Homo sapiens: one gene and its partners. The protein of the gene in region 3 interacts with the protein of the main gene of each other region in a pairwise test. Each region holds a gene or a part of one and is shown on either strand. Other genes may lie near its edges.

The links.
Region 1: the proteins of NACC1 (region 3) and ZNF512B interact in binary tests that used the Homo sapiens proteins (3 or more experiments, as listed by UniProt).
Region 2: the proteins of NACC1 (region 3) and LGALS8 interact in binary tests that used the Homo sapiens proteins (3 or more experiments, as listed by UniProt).
Region 4: the proteins of NACC1 (region 3) and EHHADH interact in binary tests that used the Homo sapiens proteins (3 or more experiments, as listed by UniProt).

The regions. Positions count from the first base shown.
Region 1 is NC_000020.11:63,959,931-63,966,954, forward strand, and holds part of ZNF512B (zinc finger protein 512B), read right to left. Parts: coding exon 6,946-7,024; intron 6,852-6,945; coding exon 6,211-6,851; intron 6,079-6,210; exon of another isoform or gene 5,626-6,078; coding exon of another isoform or gene 5,582-5,625; intron 5,574-5,581; exon of another isoform or gene 4,975-5,573; coding exon of another isoform or gene 4,934-4,974; intron 4,787-4,933; coding exon 4,560-4,786; intron 4,466-4,559; coding exon of another isoform or gene 4,462-4,465; coding exon 4,390-4,461; intron 4,288-4,389; coding exon 4,141-4,287; intron 3,984-4,140; coding exon 3,859-3,983; intron 3,781-3,858; coding exon 3,688-3,780; intron 3,511-3,687; coding exon 3,412-3,510; intron 3,336-3,411; coding exon 3,165-3,335; intron 2,852-3,164; coding exon 2,657-2,851; intron 2,445-2,656; coding exon 2,343-2,444; intron 2,075-2,342; coding exon 2,012-2,074; intron 1,478-2,011; coding exon 1,379-1,477; intron 210-1,378; coding exon 1-209. UniProt on the Homo sapiens protein: Involved in transcriptional regulation by repressing gene expression. Associates with the nucleosome remodeling and histone deacetylase (NuRD) complex, which promotes transcriptional repression by histone deacetylation and nucleosome remodeling.
Region 2 is NC_000001.11:236,540,968-236,547,991, reverse strand, and holds part of LGALS8 (galectin-8), read right to left. Parts: intron 6,339-7,024; coding exon 6,282-6,338; intron 5,232-6,281; coding exon 5,205-5,231; intron 5,078-5,204; coding exon of another isoform or gene 4,952-5,077; intron 4,433-4,951; coding exon 4,344-4,432; intron 3,243-4,343; coding exon 3,077-3,242; intron 2,831-3,076; coding exon of another isoform or gene 2,771-2,830; exon of another isoform or gene 31-2,770; intron 1-30.
Region 3 is NC_000019.10:13,128,250-13,135,273, reverse strand, and holds part of NACC1 (nucleus accumbens-associated protein 1), read right to left. Parts: intron 75-7,024; 5' UTR 67-74; coding exon 1-66. UniProt on the Homo sapiens protein: Functions as a transcriptional repressor. Seems to function as a transcriptional corepressor in neuronal cells through recruitment of HDAC3 and HDAC4. Contributes to tumor progression, and tumor cell proliferation and survival.
Region 4 is NC_000003.12:185,202,041-185,209,064, forward strand, and holds part of EHHADH (peroxisomal bifunctional enzyme), read right to left. Parts: intron 2,718-7,024; coding exon 2,376-2,717; intron 1-2,375. UniProt on the Homo sapiens protein: Peroxisomal trifunctional enzyme possessing 2-enoyl-CoA hydratase, 3-hydroxyacyl-CoA dehydrogenase, and delta 3, delta 2-enoyl-CoA isomerase activities. Catalyzes two of the four reactions of the long chain fatty acids peroxisomal beta-oxidation pathway.

The DNA of each region.
Region 1 (7,024 bases), on a different chromosome or scaffold from region 3:
GAGCCCCGGGCCCCCTTGTCTCTGCATCCTGGAGGCCAGTCGTCCCGGCGCGGGGGCAGCTTGGCCACAGGCTCCTCTGGGGTCCGCTCCTTGGGCTTTCGGCCCCGCTTCTTTCCACCTGCCAGATTTTTCTTCTTTTCCTTCTTGGGCACCAATGAGTCCTGGCTCCTGTGTTTGGGAGGTGGGTCTGCTGATGTTCGGAACCAGTTCTGGGGAGAGAAAAGCGCTGATGAAGACCTGGGACTGGATGCTGAGCACCTGAGCCAGGCATAGCCTGAGAGCTGAAGACCTGTCAGCCTTCAGGACCAGGCAAGCACCTGCAGCAGGGCTGGACACAGCCTTTAGGACCAGGCAGGCACCTGCAGCAGGGGGCTGAACACAGCCTTCGGGACCAGGCAAGCACCTGCAGGGGGCTGGACACAGCCTTCGGGACCAGGCAAGCACCTGCAGCAGGGCTGGACACAGCCTTCGGGACCAGGCAAGCACCTGCAGCAGGGCTGGACACAGCCTTCTGGACCAGGCAAGCACCTGCAGCAGGGGGCTGGACACAGCCTTCAGGACCAGGCAGGCACCTGCCGCAGGGCTGGACACAGCCTTCAGGACCAGGCAGGCACCTGCCGCAGGGCTGGACACAGCCTTCAGGACCAGGCAGGCACCTGCCGCAGGGCTGGACACAGCCTTCAGGACCAGGCAGGCACCTGCCGCAGGGCTGGACACAGCCTTCGGGACCAGGCAGGCACCTGCAGCAGGGGGCTGGACACAGCCTTCGGGACCAGGCAAGCACCTGCAGGGGGCTGGACACAGCCTTCGGGACCAGGCAAGCACCTGCAGCAGGGCTGGACACAGCCTTCAGGACCAGGCAAGCACCTGCAGCAGGGCTGGACACAGCCTTCAGGACCAGGCAAGCACCTGCAGGGAGCTGGACACAGCCTTCAGGACCAGGCAAGCACCTGCAGCAGGGGGCTGGACACAGCCTTCAGGACCAGGCAAGCACCTGCAGCAGGGGGCTGGACACAGCCTTCGGGACCAGGCAAGCACCTGCAGGGGGCTGGACACAGCCTTCGGGACCAGGCAAGCACCTGCAGCAGGGCTGGACACAGCCTTCGGGACCAGGCAAGCACCTGCAGCAGGGCTGCTGGGGGCTGGAAAGGCGGACACCCCGAGGGCAGCTCCAGCTCAGGGTGCAAGCCTCCCAGTTCTCCCAGGGAAGCCAGACCCCACTTTGAGGAGAAACTACCAGATTTCTCCACATTGGCCACTCTCCCAGGCACACCCCATGCAGGCCACTGACCTCTCTACCCCCAAGGGGTGCCCAACCCCAGCCCTGTCCCCTCCTGGGCTAGCCCCCAGCCACAGGCCCTGGTGATGGCCCTCGCACCTCTGCGTGGGTCTTCAGGATGTGGTATTTGACGCCACTCTCAGAACTGAACTCCTTCGGACACAGCAGACAGCGGTACTTCCCTGCCAGGTGGGCCCCCTGCAATGCATAGGCAGGCCAGTGCCCCAGCCCTTGGAGGACCCAGATCTGTCCTAAGCCCCTACTCATGGCTAAAGGGTCAGAGTCAGCGGTGGCCCAAGGAAAGCTGTGGCTGTCTGTGCCAGACAATGCAGGGGGCCACTGAGTTACCAGGGCGGCAGGGGTGGTAGGGGAGAGGAAGGGTAGGGAGAGGCAGGTGCCCAGGGGAAGAGTTGCAGACCTTTGCCGAGCATCCCTTATTGTAAGCCAGTGTGCCATCTGCGTGGGTCGGGGTGCCCACCCATGCCTACATGGACGCAGAGCTCCAAGGACAGGACTAGGACTCGTTGTCTTGTGGCTGGGGTTGGGGCGAGGGAGGTGTCCTAGGCTGGCCATCAGCCACCGGCCAGTCTCTGGGTTCGTGGAAGAGGAGGCCACGTAGAAAAAGTAGGGGACAAGGCAGGGTCCCTCACTACTGTGTGGGAAGCCCGCGTGGGGTGAGCTGGGAGCTCTGAGTGCAGCGCACCTGGCCGTGGGGCAGGCCCCAGAACTGACCTTACTGCAGCTGGCGAGATGAGCCTTGAGTCCGGACACGCTGGAGTAGATGGCTTCACAGCACTGCAGGGAAGGGAGCCGTGGGCGAAGGCCTCTGGTGGGCACCCCACACCAAGATATACCCCTGCCCTACCCCAGGGGATCTCTGAGGCTCTTTGGGGCAAGTGAGGGGGTGTGAGTCCTGGGGACTGGGCAGGCTGGGCATGTGAGGCCTGGGGTGGGCTTGGGCACCTCCTGAAAGCTCTCAGCCTCTGTTCCTGCTCAGAGGGCCACACCCAGGCTCTGGCCCTGTATGGCTCCCCACGCCCCCCACCCGGCTGCCTCCGCTCACGTCGTTGGGACAGTTGACGTGGCCTTTCTCCTTCACTTCATTCTTCCATGCCTCTAGCAGCTGGGGGTTCAGCGTGGGGAGCCCTGGTCGAGTGTAGTTGAGCTGTGAATTCGACAGCACCAGGGTGAGCCTGAGGCCAGAAGACACCCCAGCTGCTCTAAGAACACTCGCCTCGGCAGCAGGCGACACTCGCCGCAGATGGCGGGGGCAGCGGGTGGCCCAGGTCACAGCAGTGGCTGTCCCAAGTCTCAGGCCAAGGCATGCCCCACGCAGAGGCCACGGCGCTGTCCACAGCCCTGGGGGGGGCAGCTCACCCGTGCGGTCTCGGGCACAAGGTCATCCTTCATGCGCCGCTTGGTCCAGTCGCGGGCCAGCTCGTCCTCCGCTATCTCCTGCAGGTGGAACACCGCCACCTGGGCCGACGTGCGGCGGACACGCCCGCTTGGGGTCCGCTCCACACCCAGCGGGTCCTCAGCCTCAGGGGACTTGTCTGTGGGCTCCTCAGGGGGCTGGAGGGCAGGAAGGCATGGAGGCTAGAGTGAGCCGCGGGAGCAAGAGTCAGGTCAGCGCGCGGCGAGGCCACCCTAAGGCCGGTGGACCCACAGGCCTCCCAGTGTGCTGGGGACATGGCTGACGCAGGCAACCCGAGGGAACACGGAGGTTTCACCCTCCCGCCCACCAGGACACACGTCTCTTACAGAGAGGGGTGGGAAACACACGCGTTGGGCGGTACATGGACAAATACAGTTGGCACCCAAGGCACACGGAACACACACGGCACACAGGAACAAGCACTGTGCCACAGAACAGAGAGCCACTCACGGGGGCCGTGTGCTCCGAGCGCACGTGGTAGTCGTGGCCAGCCTTGGATCGGTACGTCTTGCCACAGTGGGTGCAGGGGAAGGAGGGGCTGTCCACCTCGCAGGGCGGCTTCCCGCAGCGCCGCTGGTGGTACTGGTAGCCCATGAGGCTGGAGAAGGCAGCCCCGCAACCCTGGGGGTCAGGCCAGAGGGTGGGTGAGTGGCCAGCAGGGCCCCCCCACCCCACACTGCCGCGGCCCCCCACTGACCTCCTGGGGGCAGCGCAGCCGTCCCATCTGCTTCAGCACCTTGCGCAGCCTCTCGCGCTCCTCCTGCTCGCCCCCTTCGGAGGCCTCGGCGTCAGAGGGCTGGGGACAGGGTGAGCATCGGTGACCCGGCACCATCGCCACGGAGCCCTGCCCTGGCCCCGCCCCGCCCAGGTGTTGGGCCACCGTTGTCCGAGGTTAGAAACCGGGGGCACTGCGGTGAAGGTGGGGTGCGAGGTCAGAGGTCACGCTGGACGGGAGCTGGGGGCCCGACGGTACCTTGGCACTGTGCTCGGCCATAGTGTGGTAGTTGAGGCCGGCTTTGGACTTGAACTGCTTCCGGCAGTGCTGGCACTTGAGTGCATCCTGAAGCTGCAGATGGCCCACATGTGAGAAGCCTGCCTGGGGCCAGGGCGCCTCCCTCCCAGCGCCTTCCGGGAGCTGCCTTACCTTCTGACACACCTCCATGTGCTTCTTAAGCCCCACGAGAGTCTTCCGGGTGACCACGTTGCAGGTGGGGCAGACGGCTTCCCCGCGCTCATGGATGGCCCTCTGCCACTGCTCTTCAGGGCCACCTGTGGGTAAGGCAGGGGCCTCGAAGGCTTGTGGGGGCTGCTGGGTGGCCCAGACGCCAGGCACAGAATCCAGTCTCCACACTCAGCCCCCATCCCTGTGCTGTGGGATCTACCCGCCGTCTAGAGCTGCCCTGAGCCCCTGCCAGGCAGCCCCTACCTGGAGCTGGGTGGGCCACAGGGGCCGGTGCCTCCTTGCTGACAGTGATGGGGGCAGCTGGCACCTTCTTCCGGGCGTCCTCAGGGCCTGGCCCCTCCTGCTTCTTGGAGCGGTGAACTCGGGCCTTGTCCTCAGCTTTGACCAGGCCTGTGTGCACACATGGGGTGGAGAGAAACAGGGATGGGCTCAGGGGCTGTCACTCGGTGGACAGCCCCAGCCCTGGAGGTGCACACCGGGCTGGGGTCTTACCTTTGAGCCCAAAGGTCCCTGAGATGGATGGCTGCTCCCCTGTAAACTTTTTGGGTGTTTTCTGTTTCCTTCCTGACTCGGGGAGAGAAAACGGGGGCCAAGATTCTGGTGAAATAACCGTCAGGAGGCCGAGCCTGCCCCGGCCGCCACCCCTGGAGCTCTCATCTTACTGTGCTTTGTGCGCTCCGGGTCCTCCTCAGGCGGGGACGCAGGGCCTGCAGCCTTCAGTGCCTCCATGCCCCCTGACGGCCTGCTGCCTGGCGACAAGGAGCCACTGCTGGTGTCTGCACTCAGCTGGAAGGCCGAGCTCTGGCCCATGGAGGAGGGGCCGTACTCCCCATTCTCTGGCCTGGCCTGCTTGGGTGGAATTGGGCAGGTGTCCAGGCTGTCCGCAGCCCTGCAGGGAGCAGGTGAGGTGAGGGCCAGGAGGGCCTAACTGTGGGCCCCATTACCCCCAGGCCGTGGCCGAGGAGCACCCTGACCTGGAACGAGCCCCCATACCTTTTCTCACCACTGTTCCCCGACCTGGGACAAGCCCCCATACCTTTTCTTACCACTGTTCCCTGACCTGGGACGAGCCCCCATACCTTTTCTCACCACTGTTCCCTGACCTGGGACGAGCCCCCATACCTTTTCTCACCACTGTTCCCCGACCTGGGACGAGCCCCCATACCTTTTCTCACCACTGTTCCCTGACCTGGGACGAGCCCCCATACCTTTTCTCACCACTGTTCCTCCCCGACCTGGGACGAGCCCCCATACCTTTTCTCACCACTGTTCCCCGACCTGGGACGAGCCCCCATACCTTTTCTCACCACTGTTCCCTGACCTGGAACGAGCCCCCATACCTTTTCTCACCACTGTTCCCCGACCTGGGACGAGCCCCCATACCTTTTCTCACCACTGTTCCCCGACCTGGGACGAGCCCCCATACCTTTTCTCACCACTGTTCCCCGACCTGGGACGAGCCCCCATACCTTTTCTCACCACTGTTCCCCGACCTGGGACGAGCCCCCATACCTTTTCTCACCACTGTTCCCCGACCTGGGACGAGCCCCCATACCTTTTCTCACCACTGTTCCCTGACCTGGGACGAGCCCCCATACCTTTTCTCACCACTGTTCCCCGACCTGGGACGAGCCCCCATACCTTTTCTTACCACTGTTCCCCGACCTGGGACGAGCCCCCATACCTTTTCTTACCACTGTTCCTCCCCGACCTGGGACGAGCCCCCATACCTTTTCTCACCACTGTTCCTCCCCAACCTGGGACGAGCCCCCATACCTTTTCTCACCACTGTTCCTCCCCGACCTGGGACGAGCCCCCATACCTTTTCTCACCACTGTTCCCTGACCTGGGACGAGCCCCCATACCTTTTCTTACCACTGTTCCTCCCCGACCTGGGACGAGCCCCCATACCTTTTCTTACCACTGTTCCTCCCCGACCTGGGACGAGCCCCCATACCTTTTCTTACCACTGTTCCTCCCCGACCTGGGACGAGCCCCCATACCTTTTCTTACCACTGTTCCCCGACCTGGGACGAGCCCCCATACCTTTTCTCACCACTGTTCCCTGACCTGGGACGAGCCCCCATACCTTTTCTTACCACTGTTCCCTGACCTGGGACGAGCCCCCATACCTTTTCTCACCACTGTTCCTCCCCGACCTGGGACGAGCCCCCATACCTTTTCTCACCACTGTTCCCCGACCTGGGACGAGCCCCCATACCTTTTCTTACCACTGTTCCTCCCTGACCTGGGACGAGCCCCCATACCTTTTCTTACCACTGTTCCTCCCCGACCTGGGACGAGCCCCCATACCTTTTCTTACCACTGTTCCTCCCTGTGGCACGAGGTGCTTTGTTCTCCGACCTGGTCAGCAGCACCATTTTGCAGGGCGGTGTGTGTCTGCTGATAGCAATGGGCCTGCTGACTGTCACCGGCTTGCTGACCACAATGGGCCTGCTGACTGTCACTGGCTTGGTGACCGGCACGGGTTTCGTAACTGTCACAAGCTTTGTTACCGTAATGGGTTTGGTGACAGGTACGGGTTTGGTGACCGGCACAGACTTGGTGACTGTGATGGGTTTGGTGACCGGCATGGCCTTGGTGACGGGCATGGGCCTGCTGACTGTGACAGGTTTGGTGACTGGCACGGGCCTAGTGACCGGGATGGCCTTGGTGACTGGCATGGGTCTGCCGACCGAGACTGGCTTGCTGATGCCAATGGGTTTGCTGACACCCACAGGTTTGCCAATAGTGACAGGTTTGCTCACTCCGATGGGCTTGCTGACCCCAACAGGCCGGCTGATGGTGACCGGCCTGCTGATGGGCCCAGGCTTGGAGGCAGGCAGGGGTCGGTCCATGTGGTTCCAGATCCGGTGTTTCTCCAGCTGGGTCTTAGAGGTGAATGCGGCCTCGCAGAAGGGGCAGGGGAAGGCCAGGCGATCTGAGATGGCACCCTGGGCAGGGAAGGGAAGGTTTGGGACAGGGCCCCAAGGGCCTCTGCCCAAACACACCCCGAGGCCTCCTCTCCCCCGACCCACAGTCCCTTACCCCTTGGCACCGCTGGTAATGGTACTTGAGCCCGTAGATGCTGGGGAACTCCAGCCAGCACCCTGAGTTTGGACACTTC
Region 2 (7,024 bases), on a different chromosome or scaffold from region 3:
CCATTAGTGGTTCCCCTTAGTTTAAAATTTTGTGTTTGTTACATGCTAACGGTGTCAGAGTAAACCATTTGATTATACATAGAAAAGTTCCAGCCTGCTGCTGCTGACTTCCTTCTGACTTCCAAGACCCTAATCTAACTAAAGTGTCCCTGGTGGTGGCACTGTCTGCCTCATCCCACCCAGGGAAGTGACTCGGACATGTTTGGAGCCTCACACCATCCCCAGGGCCTGCGGCCCTCCTTTCCTCAACACAGCCCCTCTCCCTCGGCCGCATCCTGCCCCTTGCTCCTGGAAAGCCAGAGTGCTGCCCCTCCTCGCCGATGCTGGGGACTCTCCTAAAGCAGGAAAACTCACTCCTAATATGGTTGCTTTAGTTCACCGAGATGCTGTTTCCAGCTGTAGCCTGGAACCAAGGGACTTGGATCCTGACTGACTTTTCTGCCTCAAACTCTAGGACCATGAACAAACCAGACAATTAATATGAAATTTCAGCAGCTTAAGGCACTTGCTAGGGTTTTTACAGCTGCTTGGTGATCCTGATCCTGATAAGCTCAGCACATCTTGGCCTCAGTGTGTTTGTCCAAAGCCGTCAAAGCTGGGTATCCCGTAAGTTGGAAGTGGTGCACATACTACAAATTCAGATCCATCGGCAGTGTTCGCCCTTCACAGTCATCTATGCCCAAAACTCAAACAATGAAAAACCAAAAAACCTACTAGCCTTTTACATCACCTTTACACCTACACTTCATACTTCTGGTGCCACGCTGCCAGTGCCAGGCTGGGTTTCCACCCACTCTGAGAAGGCCACTGGGAGGCCCTGCACTGAGCTCTCCCTGTGCTCCTCGCCCCCATGAAGGCTTCAGAAGAAAGAGGGGCAGCTCAGCCTTGCTGCTAACCCGGCCCCACCCCGAGAGGCCAGAATGAAGCACAAAACCTGAATCTGCAAAGCAGCAAGTTGAGGGTTTCCATTCTTTTGATAGGAGCAGTGGAAAGGACTGTCAAGGAAAATCAGGAAGGGGAGGAAATTTCAGCCCAAGTCCTGCACTCTGATAACAGCTGGCCAAGATGAAGCTTCTGTGGCTACAGAGGATTGGGGAAATAGGTGTAACCTGAGATTCTATCCCCACAAGAATGGTGGGAATCCCAGTTCCAACCAGGTAGAAGGGACCCCAGATATATTTAACAAAATCTCAAGAAAACACAAAACACACAGCCTGATGCTATAGCTCAGAAGGAAAACCAAGTTGGCAGCAGAGGGAGTCAATTAGTTACCTGTACTGTATCAGAGCAAGTGCAAAGCCAGTGAATTACAAGCAAGTGGCAAAGAAATGACATGCTTCCGGGTGAGCAGACTACTGCAAATGAAAAGAAGGCACATCCTTTGCCTAGAAGAAAACAGAACAACAGAATCCCTCACAACCATCTGATGCTGCCGAACAGCTGGAACACGGATTTCATCCAGAGGAAGAGCCCACAGATGAAATTACAACACTGAATGAGATTGTTTTTAAAAAACTGTAGATACAACTAAAGTGTATTTGAAAGAGCAAGAAGATTTAAAATGAAAGTAATGGCATAATGGAAAGACCTGAGATAATCTCAATGCAAGCATATTTAAAAGGCAAGAGATGGAAGCCCCCGGAAAGGACCTATCAGTATAGAAAATCGTCAGCAGTGATCAACACAAGGATAATTACTGCTCCTGAATTAGAAAATTAAATGGAAAAGACGATTGTTCAAAAGCATATAACATTCATCTATTCATTCCTTCAGCCAGCCATCCCTTTCACTGTCTCTGCAAAAAAATGCCTGGAATGTGGTTCACCTAATCCTAATGGTATGGTTTGAATTATGAAGTTGGAGGTATTTTCATCTTAGTATTTTTCAGCATTATTTGAATGTATCATTATTATCCTTTTTTATATTAATATAGCAGATCCAAACTTGGGGCCCAGATAGGTCAAAAACAAGTTACATCATTGGTTTCCTGTCACCCACCACAAGGCTCAACTTCCTTCTAGAGCACTCACCTCTGTTTCCCTCCAGTGAACCCCAAGTCACCCTTTGCGCCTTGACTCTTGCCAAGCTAACAACCCTGTGCTGCCCTTCCCACCTCTAAGGACTTGTTCAAATCATGCCCTAAATCTAGAAAAGCCAACCTTCAGCCTTCCACATCCTTCCCAGCTTTCTGAATTCCAAACCAATATCCACAACTTCAGGGAACCTTCCATGATTAGCCCACATCTGTCTACACTCCACATACCAGGGCACTGCATTAGACTGGAACTTAGGGATAAATATGAATGTCACATTGCTATCTATTCCGCCTGATATTCATGCTTTTAGTAACGAGTTTTGATGAGTCCTCAAGAACCCACATGGTCCAGACAATGTGTCAGTTTAAAATGCTGTAGAATGATAACCTAAACCAATGACCCTAAGTGACTGTGTGAGGCAGTGGCACCTGAGCTGGTGATTGAGGCTGGCCAAACACCCGGCATCCGCATCACAAGGAGACTATTCTCTGCTCAGCATCCCAGAAACATATTTCGGGAAAGGTATGTGTTACAATATTCACCTATCTGGGGACTCAGGACTGCATGCCTTTTAGTTCCAAGGGACTGATGTATTTTTCCTTGAATACATACAAACAAGACTAACTCCTTAGGAGAAAGGACTGCCACCTGAAACCGTCTACCCTGATGGGAGATGATGGCCAGTGCAAGCAAGCAGTTTTAGGGTCTCCACGTCCTCAAGTCTGCTTATATGATTAAATGTGTGACTCCAGTCCTGAGACAAGCTTCCTGGTTAAATTCCTATCAATATGGGGCTACACAGGAATTTTAATATGATGACAAATGTCAATTCCAATGTGCATAATTTGACACTCTACTGGCTTTGCCATTTATACTGATTGCCCACGTTATAAAAAGGGGCAAATTACAATCTCCAAGTAAACAAAAAACATACACAACTTCCACATACTGAGTTAGGACTTGATTTAAATGGACCACTTATCCCACCCCTGCTCCCAGGATTCTTATTGCTGTCCCATTTTCAAAAACTGTAACCTCACCTCAAAGTACATCCCAGGACTAAATGGGAAAGAGGTAATATTTCTCTCTTCTTCTCCCCAGGACTCCTGAAGAAAAGAATTTCTTACAAATGCTTTAATATTCAGGCGTGGGTTCAAGTGTAGAGCAATATCCTTTGATTTTCCTGCTAGTAGGTCAACATTAAAGCTTTTGAGAAAGAAAGAAAAAAAAAAACCTTAATTAACCAAGTAGGACAGAGTAGTGGCAATTTCAGCAATGTTAGTGACCAGACTTGAACTATGATTCTAACTCTATGAAACACACGTATCCACATGGACATGGGAATGCAGGTGAAGTTGAAATTTTAAACCCAGTCAGCATTCCACTAATTCGTTACTTGCAAAATAAAAATACGAAAAAAAAAACCCTTTAAAATCAGCGTTGAGGCTGAGATGTGGTTGGACAGAAATGGAAGGTTTAACGCTAAACTGAATGACTACTTCAGGCTGCAGGAGCCTGGGATCCTCTCAAGCAGGTATTCTCTTTTCATCATCTACCCGTGTTCCTTCCTTCTTGAAAGTATGCCACTTTCTAGGAAATAGCTCTAATTTCAAGCTTTCAGAAGGCTGGACGTCTGTGGAAAAAGTTGTTAAAGCAGAAATTTTCTAAATCACATGACAAGAGGGGCCCTAAAAAATGTTGCCTGGGCTGGGCGTGGTGACTCACACCTGTAATCCCAGCACTGGGAGGGCGAAGTGGGCGGATCACTTGAGGTCAGGAGTTCCAGACCAGCCTGGCCAACATGGTGAACCCCTGTCTCTACTAAAAATACAAAAATTCAAAAAGTAGCTGGGCGTGGTGGTGCGCCTGTAATCCCAGCTACTCCAGAGGCTGAGGTAGGAGAATGGCTTGAACACCCAGGAAGCGGAGGTTGTGGTGTGCTGGGATTGTGACACTGCACTCCAGCCTGGGTGACACAGTGAGGCTCCATCTCAAAAAAAAAAAAGAAAAGATGTTGCCTGATCTTACGGGGCTGCTCTGGAGTTCTACAAGGCAAGGATAGGCCTCGTGGACAAAAATGCTACTCTCTTGTCTGGCCAGAAAAAGCCGAGGTCAGAACACGGCCTTAGTCGGCTCTGCTGCCCACTGGCTGTTCACAATCTAACCACCTCCTGCTTGAATCATCTCACTTTGGAAATGAAGATTCTGACGCTAGCCCTTCTTCCAGCTCACAGGACCGTTCACGGGTGGAAGGCGGTAACAGGCACGGAAGTATCTGCACTGTGACTGGTACCGAAGGATACTGACCTTTTGGCATTTGCATTCACTTCTCCTTTAACGACGACAGTTCGTCCAGGGCCCATGGGGGTGTTCAACCTTGCAGCGAATGGCAGCCTCTGAAAAGAAGCCACAGTCAGGACCAAGAGGCCTGCAGAAAGCGATCTCCAGGGAAAACTCGTGTCCAAAGAACACTACGGAATGTTTCAGAGCCATGACCCTGTAAATCCCAGGAGGGGAGAGACAGTCTGCCTTGGTCCCAGCTGGGTCCCCTGCAGCAGCACTGTCCCTGGCTCGAAGCAAACACACATGATTACATTTTAGACGATGAAATGAGTGACAGGGTGGGACCCGATGCCCTCTGTATGAGTGAAACACGCCAGGAAGGCCCCCTGTGCCTGGGGTCTGAGGCAGTACTGTGTTCTGCCTGAAGGGGAAGCAGCCAAGCAGGGAGGTGCTGAGGAAATACACAGGAATGGCTCAGAGGCAGGCCTGGTTGACTCTCGAATCCGTCCAGGGACGGCACACAAATGCAGAGGGGGCTGCTTTGGGCCTCTATTGTGGATACAGGTTACTCGTAACAGCTCATTACAACTTAATTTTTATATAGAGTTAAGAAAATTTGGTGCTCTTCAAACCTTTGACACATAGTTCATAGGTGGTATTTTGGTGCAAGTCAAAGTGTGATTGACAGTCGAATCTTTGCTCTTGGTGTAGACAGTTCTGGGTGCGATTTTAGAAATGTCTCCTCCTCTATTACTAGGCTGTAGGGAAACAGTTCTACAGTAAGGAATGGAATGAATGAAGCTGCCCTCCACGGTTTAAACTGTTCATTTTCTATGCAACTTTATAAAATATTCCACATGAAATAACCCAGGCAAAAATACTCACAAGCTGGGGCGTGCCAGACTTTGGAACCTATTGGAAAAGAAACAAAACACAACAATGTTAGAAGGGGAAGAATTATAGTTTATAATCTGAAGTCTTGGTTGTGCTGAGCTGAGCCTGGCCGGAGCCTGGGATGTTCCTGCTCCACTCTGGTGTGACCTCCAGGCAGCTGGTGCTTTATGACGGAATGGTATGGTGTTGTGAAGGGCTACACGGGTTGAGAAGAGAGTCTGATATCCCTGTTCATCTGAGTCCTTTATCCTCCACCATAAATTAATAATTTTTCATAGAACTATATGAAATTTTTTTAAGAGACAGGGTCTTACTCTGTCATCCACACTGGGATGCAGTGGCTCAATCATGGCTCACTGCAGCCTCAACCTCCTGGGCTCAAGTCATCCGCCTACTTCAGCCACCCAAAGCTGGGATCACAGCCATGCGCCACCATGCCCAGATAATTTTTTAATTTTTTGTAGAGATGGGGTTCTCCCTATGTGGCCCAGGCTGATCTCAAACTCCTAGGCTCAAGCAATCCCCCCACCTCAGCCAAAGCGCTGGGACTACAGGCCTGAGCCACCACCTTCACCCAGCACTACATGAACTTCAAACGTGTCTTAGTTGTCCTTTCCAGGGTGCCCCCAGAATGCTAAGATTCTGTTCTGTCTGTGAGGTGTGAACGTGCCAGTCGGTAAGACCTCACTTTCTCCATTAATAACAGCGCATTTTTAAATTGCAGTTATTCTCCCAGGGGTTGAAGATACACATGGAAGTTCATTTGCCAGTGCACTGGCTGATGTTCAATATTTGGAAATACCCCAGAACAGTACTATTCAGCAGTTAAGAGTGAGAGAGTGCTTTTTACATAAGAACAGTGAGTGGCAGTTACAGAAACTGACAGGTGAATCATCAGCAAAAACTTACTGCGTGCCTGGCACCACAAGTATGTATCTCAATTTTCAAGTGATTACTTGCGTTCTAAAAGCATAATTTTCAAAAACCCAGCCTTCTTGCCATTTCATTAACATGGCAGCTAAAACAACATTTTTAAACCAGTGGCTCATTAAAAGATTTAATATTTACATTTTCTCTACTTATCTCTGTCAGTTCCAGACTAGATGCTTGGGTACTTTGTAAGTCCTGAGAAAAGATAATAAAGATTAATTTGTAACATCCAGTAGAAAATATTTTCTAAATATTTTATATTGACATATAAAAAAATTATAAATGGTACTAAAAATATGCTTGAAAACTATGATCCAAAAATACACTTGACACTGTGGTCCTTTCCGCCCCCCATCAGATTGGCAAACATTACAGAGAATAAGATGTAATGTCAGCAAGAAGGTGGGAGCATGGCTGTTGAGAGTGCAAACTGTTTTTACCCTTGTGAAGGGCGAGTTAGTATCTATCAAAATTTTCAATGCAAAGACAGTCATGTGTTGCTTAACGAAGGGGGTATGTTCTGAGAAATGTGTCCTTACATGACTTTTGTCATCGTGCAAACATCACAGAATATTACTTAACAACCTTAGATGGTACTGCCAACTACACACCTAGGCTGTAGGGTGTGGCCTATAGCTCCTGGCCAGTGAATCTGTACAGCAGGCACTGTACCAAATACTGTAGGCAACCAGAGCAGGATGGTAAGTATTTGTGCATATAAACTTACCTAAACATAGAAAAGGTATGGTAAAAATACAGTATATGACAATCTTATGGGACCACGGTTGTATATGTGGTTCATCTTTGACTGAACTGTCCTTATGCAACACATGACTGTGCTCTTTGACTCAGGCACTCCCAGCCTAGGAACCTGTCTTACA
Region 3 (7,024 bases):
TTCATTGAGGCACTCCAGGATGCTGTTGCCGAAGTTCGGGATCTCCATCTGCAGTGTCTGGGCCATGGCAGCGGCTGCACGAGGGGCAGGGAGGAATGGAGAGACAGAGACGGAGGGACGGGGTCAGGCGGCAAATGTGGGTGCTGGCCTAGCCCTGGCCCCAAAGACCTCCCCTGCTGGAGGGACATCCGCACGATGGAATCTACCATGGTGCTAAACCACACAGAGCCCTCTACCCTATCTGTCCTGGTACAGACTCACTTTTACAATATGTGGTCAAATCTGCTAAGCTAGCTGCAGACCAGGGTGGCCACACGCTATCCCTTGCAAAGAGGAGGGGGCAAAGGCATACTTATTCATATGTACTTGAAGAGTAACTGAATATGCTTAAGTGCTCGGAAGAGTGGCTAGGACACAGTGTGCTACCTCTGAGTGCCAGCTATTGCAAGCACCAGGTACATATATGGTATCTCTTCAGGGTACTGGCATGGAAATGCCAGAAAGGCAGGGTCATCTGACTGTGCAGCAGAGTCTGCAGTGCTGGGCACATGCCCTTCAATCACTGTTTGTATAATGACTAAATGACCACTCAAGAAATTACATGAGGTCAGGCGCAGTGGCTCACTCATGTAATCTCAGCACTTTGGGAGGCTGAGGCAGGCGGATCACTTGAGGCCAGGAGTTCGAGACCAGCTTGGCCAACGTGGCAAAACCCTGTCTACCAAAAATACAAAAATTAGCCAGGTAAGGTGGTGTGGGTATGTAGTCCCAGCTACTAGGGAGGCTGAAGCCAGATAATTACTTGAACCCAGGAGACAGAGGTTGCAGTGAGCCGAGATTGTGGCACTGCACTTCAGCCTGGGGCATAGAGTAAGACTGTCTCAAAAAAAAAAAAGGAAAAAGAAATTGCATGAGGCTGGGTGCAGTGGCTCATGCCTGTAATCCCAGCACTTTGGGAGGGCAAGGCGTGTGGATCACTTGAGCCTAGGAGATTGAGACCAGCCTGGGCAGCATGGTGAAACCCTGCCTCTTACGAAAAATACAAAAATTACCCCGGCATGGTGGAGCACACCTGTGGTCCCAGCTACTAGGGAGGGTGTGGTGGGGGGTGGATCTGTTGTTGAGCCCAGGTCAAGGCTGCAGTGAGCTGTGATTGCGCCACTATACTCCAGCCTGGGATACAGACAGAGACACTGTCTCAAAAATAAATAAATAAATAAATAACTTACATGAAAACATCTCTAGTCATCAGGGAAATTAGAAGAAAACATCATCAGGGAAATGCAAATCCTAACCACAATGAGACACCATCTCACACCCACTAGGATGGCTGGAATCAAAAAAGTTGGTGAGGATGAGAAATCCAGAACCCATTTCCACTGCTTGTGGGAATGTCAAATGGCACAGCCACCATGGAGAACAGTCTGACGGTTCCTCAAACGGTTAAAGAGAGTTACCATATGACCCAGCGATTCCACTCCTGGAATTTATGCCCAGGAAAAACGAAAACATTTGCCTGCATTGAAAACCTGTAAACAAACGTTCACAGCAGCATTATTCACAATAGCCCAAAGGTGGAAACAATCCAAACGTCCATCTGCGGATGGATGGGCCAACTAAACATGGTCAGTCCATACAATGGGATATTATTCAGCTATAAAAAGAAAGGAAATTCTGACACATGCTACAACATGGATGTCCCTGGAAAAGATTATTCCAACAGAAAGAGGCCAAACAAAAGGACCACAGATTGTATGATCCATTTATAGGAAATGTCCAGGACAGGCAAATCCACGCAGACAGGAGGCAGATTAGTGGTTGCCAGGGGCTGGGAGGCGGGGAGAATGGGGGTGTGGTGAGGGAAAGCAAAGGGAAGGCAAAGGTGTGTGGGGTTTATTCTTTTTTCTTTTTTTTTTTTGAGATGGAGTCTCACTCTGTCGCCCAGGCTGGAGTGCTGGGATTCCAGGTGTGAGCTATCACGCCCGGCCTCCTCTGTAATTCTATAGGGTCTCTAGAGGGCAGTGGTCCTAACTGGGCAGAGTGCGAGTGAGAAGGCTTCCCTGAGTAAGGCAGATCTTTCCAGACACTCCAGCTGGCCAGCAGGAGAAAGTAACAAGTACATGCAAAGGCCCTGGTGCAGGAATGCACACCTTCCCTCCCTTCCAGTTAGCTCTCAAGCACCTTCCATGTTTCATTAGCAACTCCACTCAGATCTGCCTCCCTGGGCTGGGCACTGAGAATACAGTGGCCACTCTCCTCCTAATCTGGTAACACCCGTTCCGTCTGAAAGGGCTGCTGTGAGGAATAGAAACGGCAAGTGTTCAAAGGCTCAGAGGTACAACCTAAGGTTGAGTCCTGGCTCCAGCACCGACCTGCTCCTCTGACCAGGAGCTCCAAATCTCTGCTTTCTCCATTTGGAAATCGAGGCTGAGGAGGTCAACCTGATTCTACAAACTCAACCTACACTTATTGTTACTGAATGATCATTCAAGAAATTACACGGAAACATTACTAGTCATCAGGGAAATGTGAATCCTAACCACAGTGAGATACCATCTCACTTACTGAGCTGCTACCCTGGCAGGCCACAAGCAAGACACAGGCCCTGCCCCTTACAACACCCAGGCGAATGGAGGAACCAACTCACAACTTCTATGAGCTCCCCGAATCCTCTTAGCAAGACTTCAGGGCTGGTTTCATACTCCCCTTGCAAAGCTGGAAAAACTGAGGTCATGTGGAAATTGAGGACTGTCCTGAGGTCATCTAAAAATTCATTCACCAGGTTCAAAATTCAAAAGATATGTCCTGAAGGGCGGGATGACTCAAGCCTGTAATCCCAGCACTTTTTTTTTTTTTTTTTTTTTTAAGACAGAGTCTTGCTCTGTTACCCAGGCTGGAGTGCAGTGGTGCCATCTCGGCTCACTGCAACCTCCGCCTCCCAGGGTCAAGTGATTCTCAGCCTCCTGAGTAGCTGGGCCTACAGGCGTGTGCCACCATGTCCGGCTAATTTTTGTACTTGTAGTAGAGATGCGGTTTCACCACATAGGCCAGGCTGGTCTTGAACTACTGACCTCAAATGATCCACCTGCCTTGGCCTCCCAAAGTGTAGGATTACAGGCATGAGCCACCACACCTGGCCAATCCCAGCACTTTGGGAGGCCGAGTCAGGTGGATCACCTGAGGTCGGGAGTTCGAGACCAGCCTGGCAAACACGGTGAAACTCCATCTTTATTAAAAATACAAAAATTAGCTGGGTGTGGTGGCCGGTGCCTGTAATCCCAGCTACTCGGGAGGCTGAGGCAGGAGAATCACTTGAACCCGGGAGGGTGGAGGTTGCAGTGAGTCAAGATTGTGCCATTGCACTCTAGCCTGGGCAACAGAGTGAGACTATGTCTCAAAACAAAAACAAACAAAAAAACCCAAGATATGTCCTGAGCTATCTGCTGCCCCTACCACTTACATGCAAAAAGTGGTAAGGCCAAGATTCAAACCAGGGTCTGCCTAGGCACCACAGCCTGTGACTTCCCTTGCTTGTATCTTCCTTCCTCTTCCCCTCCTCAAAATCACTGCCACCATCCTACGAAAACACAAACAAAACAAAACAAAACCCCAAAACCTCCTTAGGGCAATCAGAGGGTGGAGGCTGGATCTAGGAATCCCAGTTACAAGGCAACAAAAATCTCCGCCCAGGAGCTCAAACTCAGAGCTGAATGGGCCAGGAGCTGGCCACTCTGCATGAAGAGGCAGGAGAAACAGGCACCATGTTGGGGGGCAAAGGACAGAGCCCAGAGAGCCTACTTCAGGGGTCCTGGCAGCCCTGAACCACCTCCCTGGGCAGCCAAATTAAAGCCACCCCTGGTACTGGGGCCCACATGACAAGGACCAAGATGGTCAAGGGAAGAGGCTGGCATCCCAGTTCCTAGAGGGGTGCTCCAAGCTCATTCCCCAGGGAGGAGGACAAAGCCAGGACAGGTGTGCAGTGCTGCCAAAATCCTGCACCTGCCTGTGCCTCAGTTTATTCATCTGTAAAATGGGCTGTTCATCCAACCCATCCTGATGAACTGCATCCTCCTTTGTGGGAGGTGCTGGGGACACAGCCCTAAAAGGACCAGCTGTGCTTATGTGGAGCTGTCTAGTGAGGAGACACCGGGGATGATTTAATTACAGTTGGGGTGGGTATGTCAACCAAGCAGATGGCCTTGGTGGTAGGGACCATAAAAGGTTGAGCAACTGCCAGGACAGAGATAACACTTCTGGGCGGGAAGGTATCAGGTGTGGTCCAGGGACCCAAAGAAAGCTGGTGTAGCTGAAGGGCGATGTAGCAGGGACAGGGCTGCCAGGAAGGGTATGGGACAGGTGGGGTCCTGGCCTACAGAGTGTGGACATCTTTGAAAGTGAGCCCCAGGGTCAGGGCAGCATTTTAAGAGTTATATGTACAGGCCAGGCGCGGTGGCTCACGCCTGTAATCCCAGCACATTGGGAGGCTGAGGCGGGCAGATCACCTGAGGTCAGGAGGTCAAGACCAGCTTGGCCAACATGGTGAAACCCCGTCTCTACTAAAAATACAAAAATTAGCCGGGTGTGGTGGTGCACATCTGTAGTTCCAGCTACTCAGGAGGCTGAGGCACGAGAATCACTTGAACTTGGGAGGTGGAGGTTGCAGTGAGCTGAGATCGAGTCACTACACTCCAGCCTGGGCAACAGAGTGATACTCCATCTCAAAAAAAAAAAAAAAAAAGAAAAGAAAAAAGAGGTGTATGTACAGTTAACCCCTCCAAGGGCACTGTCAGCTCAATGAAGGCAAACATTCTGGCTGGTTTTATTCAAGATTAGTTCTTTAGAATGAAATAGATGCTCAGTAAATATTTGTAAATGTGTTAAAGAACAGTGCAGAGAGGCTGGGCACGGTGGCTCACGCCTGTAATCACAGCACTCTGAGAGGCAGAAGCAGGAGGAGCCCCTGAAGCCAGGGGTTCAAGACCAGTCTGGGCAACATAGTGAGACCCCTATCTCTACAAAAAATTTTAAAATTAGTGGGGCTTGGTGGCTTGCACCTGTAGTCCCAGCTACTTGGGAGGCTCAGGTGGGAGGATCACTTGAGCCAAAAAGTTAGAGGCTGCAGTGAGTGATGATTGTGCCACTATATTTCAGCCTGGGTCATAGAGCGAGACCCTGTCTCTAAAACAAAAAAAGCAAAAACAAAAAACCACATCCCCCGACCCCACTACCCCACCAAAACCAACCAACCAACCAGCCAACCAAACAAACAAACAAAACAGTGCAGAACGGGCACAGGACTGCTTCAAGGTGACCTTACCAAGCACCCAGCACCGGCCACAGGTAATTTTTTTTTTTTTAAAGACAGGGTCTCACTATGTTGTCCAGGCTGGTCTTGAACCCCCCCATTTGGCAATGGAGACTGAAAGGTTACGGGGATAATAGGAGGCAACAGAGATGTGGGGGTTGGGAAGGTGGCCCAGGTCCCCTCCTGAGAATGAGAGCCAACCTGATGCTCAGACTGAGGTCCCCCATACCTTGTGAACCTCAGCTTCAGAGCCCAGCACCACAGCACCCAGGGCTTTGGAGCCTTTGATTAGCAATTGGTCCAAATAGCTCAGCCAATTAGCGCACGGGAGCTCTCCCTCCCTCCATGCTGCTGGGGACGAGCGGAGTGGGGCGACGGGTCTGTGAGCCACAGTGACCTGAATGCTGTTCGTCTAGTTCCCCAGTGGCCCCCGCACAGAGTGGACAGGGGTGAGCTGCAGTGTGGGCCAGAGCAGACCCATCTCTGGGAACCCCTCCATCCCTCTGTGATTGGCCCAATCCGGCCCAATCCTGCCCAATGGACTCAGGAGAAAAACTATGTGGGCCCCTGCAAGAAGCCCTCACCCACGCTAGCCCCAGGAAGGGAGCTAGCATGACTGGACTCAGAGGAAACGGGTCTCTCGCTGGCAGGTCCCTAGCAGGGTCACCTGCTGGCTGAAGCAGGGGTGGGATGGAGTCGAGGATTGAGGTCTCTAAACCACCTAATGGTTCTAGTCCCCACCAAATCCCCACCTAAGTCAGGCTCAAACACACTGCCTGGTCCTCCTCTACTGCAGCGAGGCCTTTGCCCAAGCTGTGCACCCTGCCTGGAATACCCTCTTCCTCCACCCTCAGCTACTCACTTCTCCAGGCTAGAGAAGATGTCCCTCTCCTGCCCCACCCCGGCCACAGTGCCCTTAAGCTTACCTCTGAGGAAACTAAGTCCCACTTGACTATAAACTCCCCAAGGGCAGAAAACCATATGAGAATCATCTCTCCTTAAAATTCAGCATATCAGCACCCCTGAGGGTGTGGGGGACAAGGGCAGGAGGCCACAGGGCAGCTGGGACCTTCCTGGCCAGGACAGTGCCTAGTCCTGGCCCTGGGCCTGAGCAGATCTTCTGGTGAGACCCAAGGGCACAGCACACGGTTTCCATGACTTCCCAACAACTACTCAATAAATATTTGCCAGGTCCCTGCCTGGGCAGGCCACAATGGTGACAAAGTAGCCCTGCCTCTGGAGCTCACAGTCCAGCAGGAGACAGGGCCATTCATCCTTGGTCACACAGATCAATGTGCTACACACTGGGGTGCCTGACCTTGCCCAGAAGGGGTGACACTGGAGCTGAGATCTAGGAAGGGCAGTAGTGGATGGGGAGTGTGGCCCTTCCAGAAAGGGTTTTCACCTCCAGGGGACTGGGCTCAGTCTCAGGGCTCTGCTATGGACAAAGTATGTCCCTCCAAATTCACAGATTGAAACTCTGAGCCCCAATGTGCCTGTATCTGGAGATAAAACCTTTGGGAGCTAATTAAGGTTAATTGAGGTCATAACGGTGGTATTAAGAAGGCAGCTGTCTGCAAGCCATGAAGAGAGCCCTCACCAGAACCTGACCACGCTGGCACTCTCATCTAGACTGCCAGCCCCCAGCACTCTGAAATATAAATGTCTGTTGTTTAAGCCACCCAGTCTGTGATATTTTGTTGTGTGGCAGCTTGAGCT
Region 4 (7,024 bases), on a different chromosome or scaffold from region 3:
AAAAATCACAAGTGAGGCTGGGCACAAAGGCTCACGCCTGTAACTCCAGCACTTTGGGAGGCCAAGGTGGGCGGATCACCTGAGGTCAGAGGTTCAAGACCAGCCTGGACAACATAGTGAAACCCTGTCTCTACTAAAAATACAAAAATCAGCCAGGCTTGGTGGCGCAGCACCTGTAATCCCAGCTACTTGGGAGGCTGAAGCACGAGAATTGCTGGAACCTGGGAGGCGGAGGTTGTGGTGAGCTGAGATTGCGCCACTGCACTCCAGCCTGGGTGACAGAGCGAAACTCCATATCAAAAAAAAAAAAAAAAAAATCCCAAGCGAATCAAGGGTAGACCTCAACAGAGTCAGAGCTGAAAGGAGCACAATGTATTTATATTAGAGACAGATTCTTTGATACCAAAGTTGAATTGAGAGAACAAACAGACTGAGAAAATGTGGAGTGAGATCTTTGCCTCCAAGTTGGGTTGGTGCTACAGCAGGGGTCGCCAACCTCTGGCTGTGGACCGGTACCAGTCCGTGACCTGTTAGCACAGCAGGAGGTAAGCAACAGGCTAGGGAGCATTTCAGCCTTGACCTCCGCCTCCTGTCGGATCAGTGGTGGTATTAGACTCTCACAGGAGCGCGAACCCTATTGTGAACTGCGCATGTGAGGGATCTAGGTTGCATGCTCCTTCTGAGAATTTAATGCCTGATGATCTGAGGTAGAACAGTTTCATCCCAAAACCATCATCCCCCAATCCGTGAAAAATTGTATTCCGTGAAACTGGTCCCTGGTGCCAAAAGGTTGGAGACCACTGTGCTAGACAGCTGGGCAAGGGTTAAGAAAGTTGATGCTTTTACACAAAAAGGCAAATATCATATGTTCTCACTCATATGTGGGAGCTTAAAATGTAGATCTCATAATGATACAGGGTAGATTGGTGGTTGCCAAAGGCCAGGAAGGGGAGGGGGGGATGGGAGATGAAGGGAAAAAAAAGGATATAAATATATTTATTACTACTGAACTGTATACTTACAAATCGTAAAGATGGTTAAAAAAAAAGAAAAAAGAAAGAAAAATCAGAATAAGGGCTATAGACTAAATAATAGTTCTTTATATTAATTGCCCTGTTTTTTAAAATAAATTATACTGTGGTCATGTATGAGAATATTAATTTTAGGAAATACACATAAGTCTGTAACTTTTTCTTAGGGTTCAGAAAAGAGAGAGGGAAATAAAACAAATATAGTAAAACGTTAACATTTGGAGGATCTGGATAAAAAGTATATGAGAATTTTTTGTACTATTATAACTTTCCTGCATGTCTTTAATTATGATTAAAAAAACTTAAATATAAGAAAAAAAGAAAAGAAAGAAAGTTGATGCTTTTAGTAAACTATGGACCCTCTCCCCAGAAGATTGTACCTAAGCTGGTGCAAAGAATGCTTCACTTACCATCTCAAGGGATTTAAAATCCACCAAAGACCGTTCTTGAGCCGAGACTAAGAGCAAGTGAAGCTTAGGAAAGTGGCCCAGAGAAGCCAATCAGGGAGCTAGCATCTGAGGAAGGAAGATATTTTGTTTGGGAAAATTCCAGAGGGAAAAAAAGTAAGGAAGCCATGGTTTCAGGGTTAAGATGGATTTGAGGATAGTGGTTTTGAACAGGTGAAGTGAATGGATCGGGGGACGGAAAGACAGAGACTTGATTGCAAATACCCAGCTATGAGAGTGACAGGCCACACCTTGAAATGTGGTACAAATCATCATCATCAGGAAATCCAGGAATGAGAGATTCATACAGGGAAGAGGTAGCATAGAATAAAAAATGCTAGGCCAGGAATGGTGGCTCACACCTGTAATCTCAGAAATTTGGGACGCTAAGGCAGGTGGATCACTTGAGGCCAGGAGTTCGAGACCAGCCTGACCAACATGGCGAAGCCCTGTCTCTACTAAAAATACAAAAATTATCTGGGCATGGTGGCAGTAGTCACAGCTACTCAGGAGGCTGAGGAAAGAGAATCACTTGAACCTGGGAGGTGGAGGTTGCAGTGAACCGAGATTGAGCCACTCCACTCCTGCCTGGGTGACAGAACAAGACTCTGTCTCAAAAAAAAAAAAAAAAAAAAAAAAAAGAATAAAACATTCCCAGTCTGGAGTCAGACCTAGGGTCAGACTTTCACCCTACTCGTGTTTAGCTCACCATTGAGAAGGCTGGCGTCTCTAGGCCTCTCATGTTAAAGAAGAGAGCTCATGGGGTGGTGTGAGAATTAGCTTAGCTAACACAAGTAATGTGTCTTACGTGAAACCTAGCATCCGGTAGCCCTAAGCAAATGGTAGCACATTACATGAGCAGATTTGGAGGATTCCATTCATTACCCCATGGTCTTACCAACAACACCAACTGAGGAGACAGGCCGCGCTGATGCTGTTTTCCACGATGCTCCGGAGGGAGTTGACCACTTATTTGCTTTCCTTTCAGCGAAGAAAGCATATTGCAGGGCTCTAGCCTGCCCTGATTGCAAAAGATATAGAAACAGCTCCTCCTCCTTCTTGATGCCCACTTCATAGGGATACTGCACAGCAGCCTGGACTGCACGGACACAAGCCTCCTGTGCAAGACACCCAGGGTGCTGCCTCCGCATCTTCAAGAGGGCCTCACTAAAAATGCTGTCCATGTTGGGCAAGCTCTGAATTGGCTTGTTGCAGAGTCTACGGGATTCTAGAGGTTGATCTGAAAGGAATAAGAAGGATCAGAGCTTTGGAAATGTTACTTGTACAAAGGGAATGTGAATATATAGTAATAACAATAACCTGTTCAAATTCAAAGCACAAACTAAAAGCTATTCATTAAGACATTTAATGTACACTAAACATATGTACACTAACATCTCTGATATCTTTGCAACACAGTCCTACAAGATAGAATTTAGTAGACTCAAAGCAATTTTAGGTTACCTAGTTTAGGCATAAAAGTTGTATTTTCTTTTTAATCCAAGACCAAGACAATTTTATAATAGATTAATGATTAATTAATTAAATTAATCAATAGATTAATATTTAATCTGTAATTAATATTAATATATTAAATATTAATGAGTCTAAGGAAAACGGTTCTGAGTTAATATTTTATTTATTAATTTTTAAAAATTATTTCAGCTTTTATTTTAGATTGAGGGCATACATGTGCAGGTTTGTTACATGGGTATATCACACGATGCTGAGGCTTGGGATATGAATAATCCTGCCACCCCAGTAGTGAGCATAGTACCCAGAAGTTGGTTTTTCAACCTTTGCCATCCTCCCTCCCTTCCCCTGTAGTAGAGACTCTAGTGTCTATTATTGAGTGAATATTTTAGATTCAAAATAACCTTAACTCCGTTCCTAATAGTAACAAAAACTTTAAAATACCTAGAAAAGGAGACAGCGTGGTATTGATGCAAGGATAGGTATATATATCAATGGAAGAGAATCGAGAGTTCACAAATAAACTCTTACAATTATAGCCAATGATTTTCAACATAGGTGTCCAAACAATTCAATGGAAGAAAGGAGAGTCTCTTTTTTTCACATTCAGAATTTTTATTTTAAAACAAAGAATCGGAGCAACATTAACAACAGAAAATCCATATGGAAATATTCACAATCTGCTCAGTGAGAAATGGGAAAACAACTTTCCTGCCTTACTGCCAACCTACTGTTTGAGGAGCCAGAAGTTGACGTGAGGTTGGAAGGTCACCTTTTCCAGCTAAATCCCACTGAATAGGTGTGTGCATTTTTATTCAAAGTCTCCGCAACCAGAGGGAACAGAACTGAGAACAAAAATACTGTTATTGGCAAGGGTTTGGCTAAAGGGTCTGGCTAAAGGGTCTGAGATGTGCAAGCACCAAGAAGGGATAGGGAGATTGAGCAACACATGAAAAGAGGGGCTGTAGGAACAAGCACCGAGAAAGTAAGTCAACTATAACCTACTTCCACCCAGAGCAAAGTGACTGTGCACATAAATCCACACTCTCAAGTGTGGGCTACACTGCACGCTGACTCATACGATCTCAAACGTGGTTTATTGGAAAGATTCTAGTCCCCTAAGGGCACTCAGCGAAGGACCACAGTGACATGGTAACAGATGCACACAAGCATACTGTGACCCTAAAGCAACAACACACTTTAGATAATAATCGTTCAGAAAAAAATCCTCAAAAGGAGAATCTTTCAACAAATCGTAGTGGGATAATTGGATATCCACATGCCAAAAACAATAAAAAAAAAAAAAAATTTAGGTCCTTACCTAGCACCATATATAAAAATCAACTGAAAACAGATCACAAATCTAAATTGAAGAACTAATACTATAAAAATTCCTAGAAGAAAATATAAAAAAATTTTCAGGACCTTGGGGTTAGGCAAAGTATTCTTAGATACAACACCAAAAGCATGACATACAAAAGAAACAAGAAATCAGACTTCATAAAAATTAAAGACTTTTGTTCTTCAAAGGATATCAATAAGAAAATGAAATGACAGCCAGGTGCAGTGGCTCACGCCTGTAATCCTAGCACTTTGGGAGGCCGAGGCGGGTGGATTGTCTGAGCTCAGGAGTTCGAGACCAGCCTGGGCAACATGGTGAAACCCCATCTCTACTAAAATACAAAAAATTAGCTGGACATGGTGGTGTGCACCTGTAATCCCAGCTACTCGGGAAGCTGAGGCAGGAAAATTGCTAGAACCTGAGAGGTGGAGGTTGCAGTGAGCCGAGATCATGCCATTGCACTCCAGCCAGGGTGACAGAGCGAGACTCTGTCTCCAAAAAAAACAGAAAAAAAAAAATGAAATGACAAGCCATAAACTAGAAGAAAATACTTGTGTGGTAGTCAGAATAACACCCCCCCCACCAAATGTTCATGTCTTAATTCCTAGAATCTGTGAATGTATAACCTCACATGGTAAAGAGATGTATAGGTGAGAGTAAGATTAAAGACCTTGGCTGGGCACAGTAGCCCACGCCTGTAATTCCAGTACTCTGGGAGGCCGAGGTGGGCAGATTGCTTTGAGCTCAGGAGGTTGAGACCAACCTGGGCAACGTGGTGAAACTCTGTCTCTACCAAAAATACAAAAAATTAGCCGGGCATGGTGGCGCACCCCTGTGGTCCCAGCTACTCTGGAGGCTGAAGTGGGAGAATCGTTTGAGCCTGAGAGGTTGCAGTGAGTGAGCCAAGGTCGTGCCACTGCACTGCAGCCTGGGTGACAGAGTGAGACCCCATTTCAAAAAAAAAAAAAAATTAGACATTGAGATGGGGATATTACCCTGTGTTATCTGATTGAGTGCAATCTAATCATATGAGTCCTTAAAAGCAGAGAATCTTTCCTGACTGTGGTGAGGGGGATTCAACAAGGAAGAAGGGTTAGAGAAATGCAACATGCAAAGGACTCGACCTGTTGGCACTGATGTAGCTTTGAATATGAGGAAAGGAGACCAAGAACTAAAGAATGCAGTGTTCTCTAGAAGCTGGGATTGACCTTTAAGGTTTACAAGGTCGCAAGTTTGCAAGCAAGAACATGGGGACTCTGATCCCACAATGCAAAGTACTGAGTTCTGCCAACAACCCAAATAAGCAGGAAACAGTTTCTCCCCTAGAGCCTCCAGAAAAGAGTGCACCAGCTGACACCTGGATTTTAGCCCAGGGAGACCTCTACAATACTTCTAGTCTACACAACTGTAAGAAAATAATTTCGGATGATTTAAACTGCTAAGCTTGTGGTAATTTTTTAGCACAGCAATAGAAAATATAATTGGCACATCAAATATCAAATAAAGAACTTGTTTCCAGAATATGTAACAAACTCTTATGACTCAATAATTAGGTAAACAATGTAATTTCTTAAACGGGCAAAAACTTGAGCAGTTATTTCATCAAGGAGCATATGTGAATGGCTAATATGCACACAAAAAGATGCTCGACATCATTAGTCATTAAGGAAATGCAAATTAAAACCGCAACAAATGTGGTAGACAGACTCTAAGTAATGGGCTGTCATTTCTAGATTAGGTTACAAAAAGACTCTGGCTTCAGTCTTGCTCATACTTTCTTGCCCTCTCAAATTGGTCACTCTGATGGAAGCCAGCTGCCCTGTTGTGAGCCACCCTATGGTGAAGCCCACGTGGCAAAGAACTGAGGGAGGCTTTCAGCCCACAGTCAGTGAGGAACTGAGGCCCTCAGTACAACAGCCCATACGGAACTGAATCCTACCAACAACCGCTTGAGTGAGTTTGAAAGCAGATTCTCCCCCTGACCCCTAATCAACCTGAGATGACTACAGCCACAGACAACACCTTGATTGTAGCTTTGTTTGAAATCTGAAAGCCAGAGGACCTAGGACACTTGGATTCTGGACCCACAGAAATTGTGGAATAAATGTTTGATTTTAAGCCACTAAGTTTTGGGGTCATTTGTTATGCAGTTAGACTTACTAGAATGACTATAATAAAAAGCCATCACTACTGAATGTTGGTGATGATGTAGAGAAACCAGAAGCCTCATACGTTGCTTCTGAGAGTGTAAAACAGCACATTGCTTTGGAAAACAGTTTAGTTGTTTCTTAAAAAGATAAACATAAACTGATTGTTCAACCCAGCAATTTCACTCCCAGGAATCTACACAAGAGAAATGAAAGCATATGCCATAAAGAAAACTTGTCTACAAATATTCATGGCAGCATTATTTATAATAGCAAAATCTGGAAACAATCCAAACATCCATCAGCTGTTGAATGACTAAAGAAATTTGATAGAGCCATGCAATAGAATATTATTCAGCAATAAAAAGGATCAAACTGTTGATACATGCTACAATACAGATACAGATGAGCCTCAGAAACATTATGCTAACTAAAAGAAGCCAGATGCAAAACATTACATATTGTATGATGCCATTTAGATCCAAGGTCCAAAAAATGCAAATCTATAGAGACAGAAAGATCAGTGGTTGCCTAGGGCTGGGGATGTGAGTAGGAGTTAGTGTTAATGGGCATGAAGAAACTTTT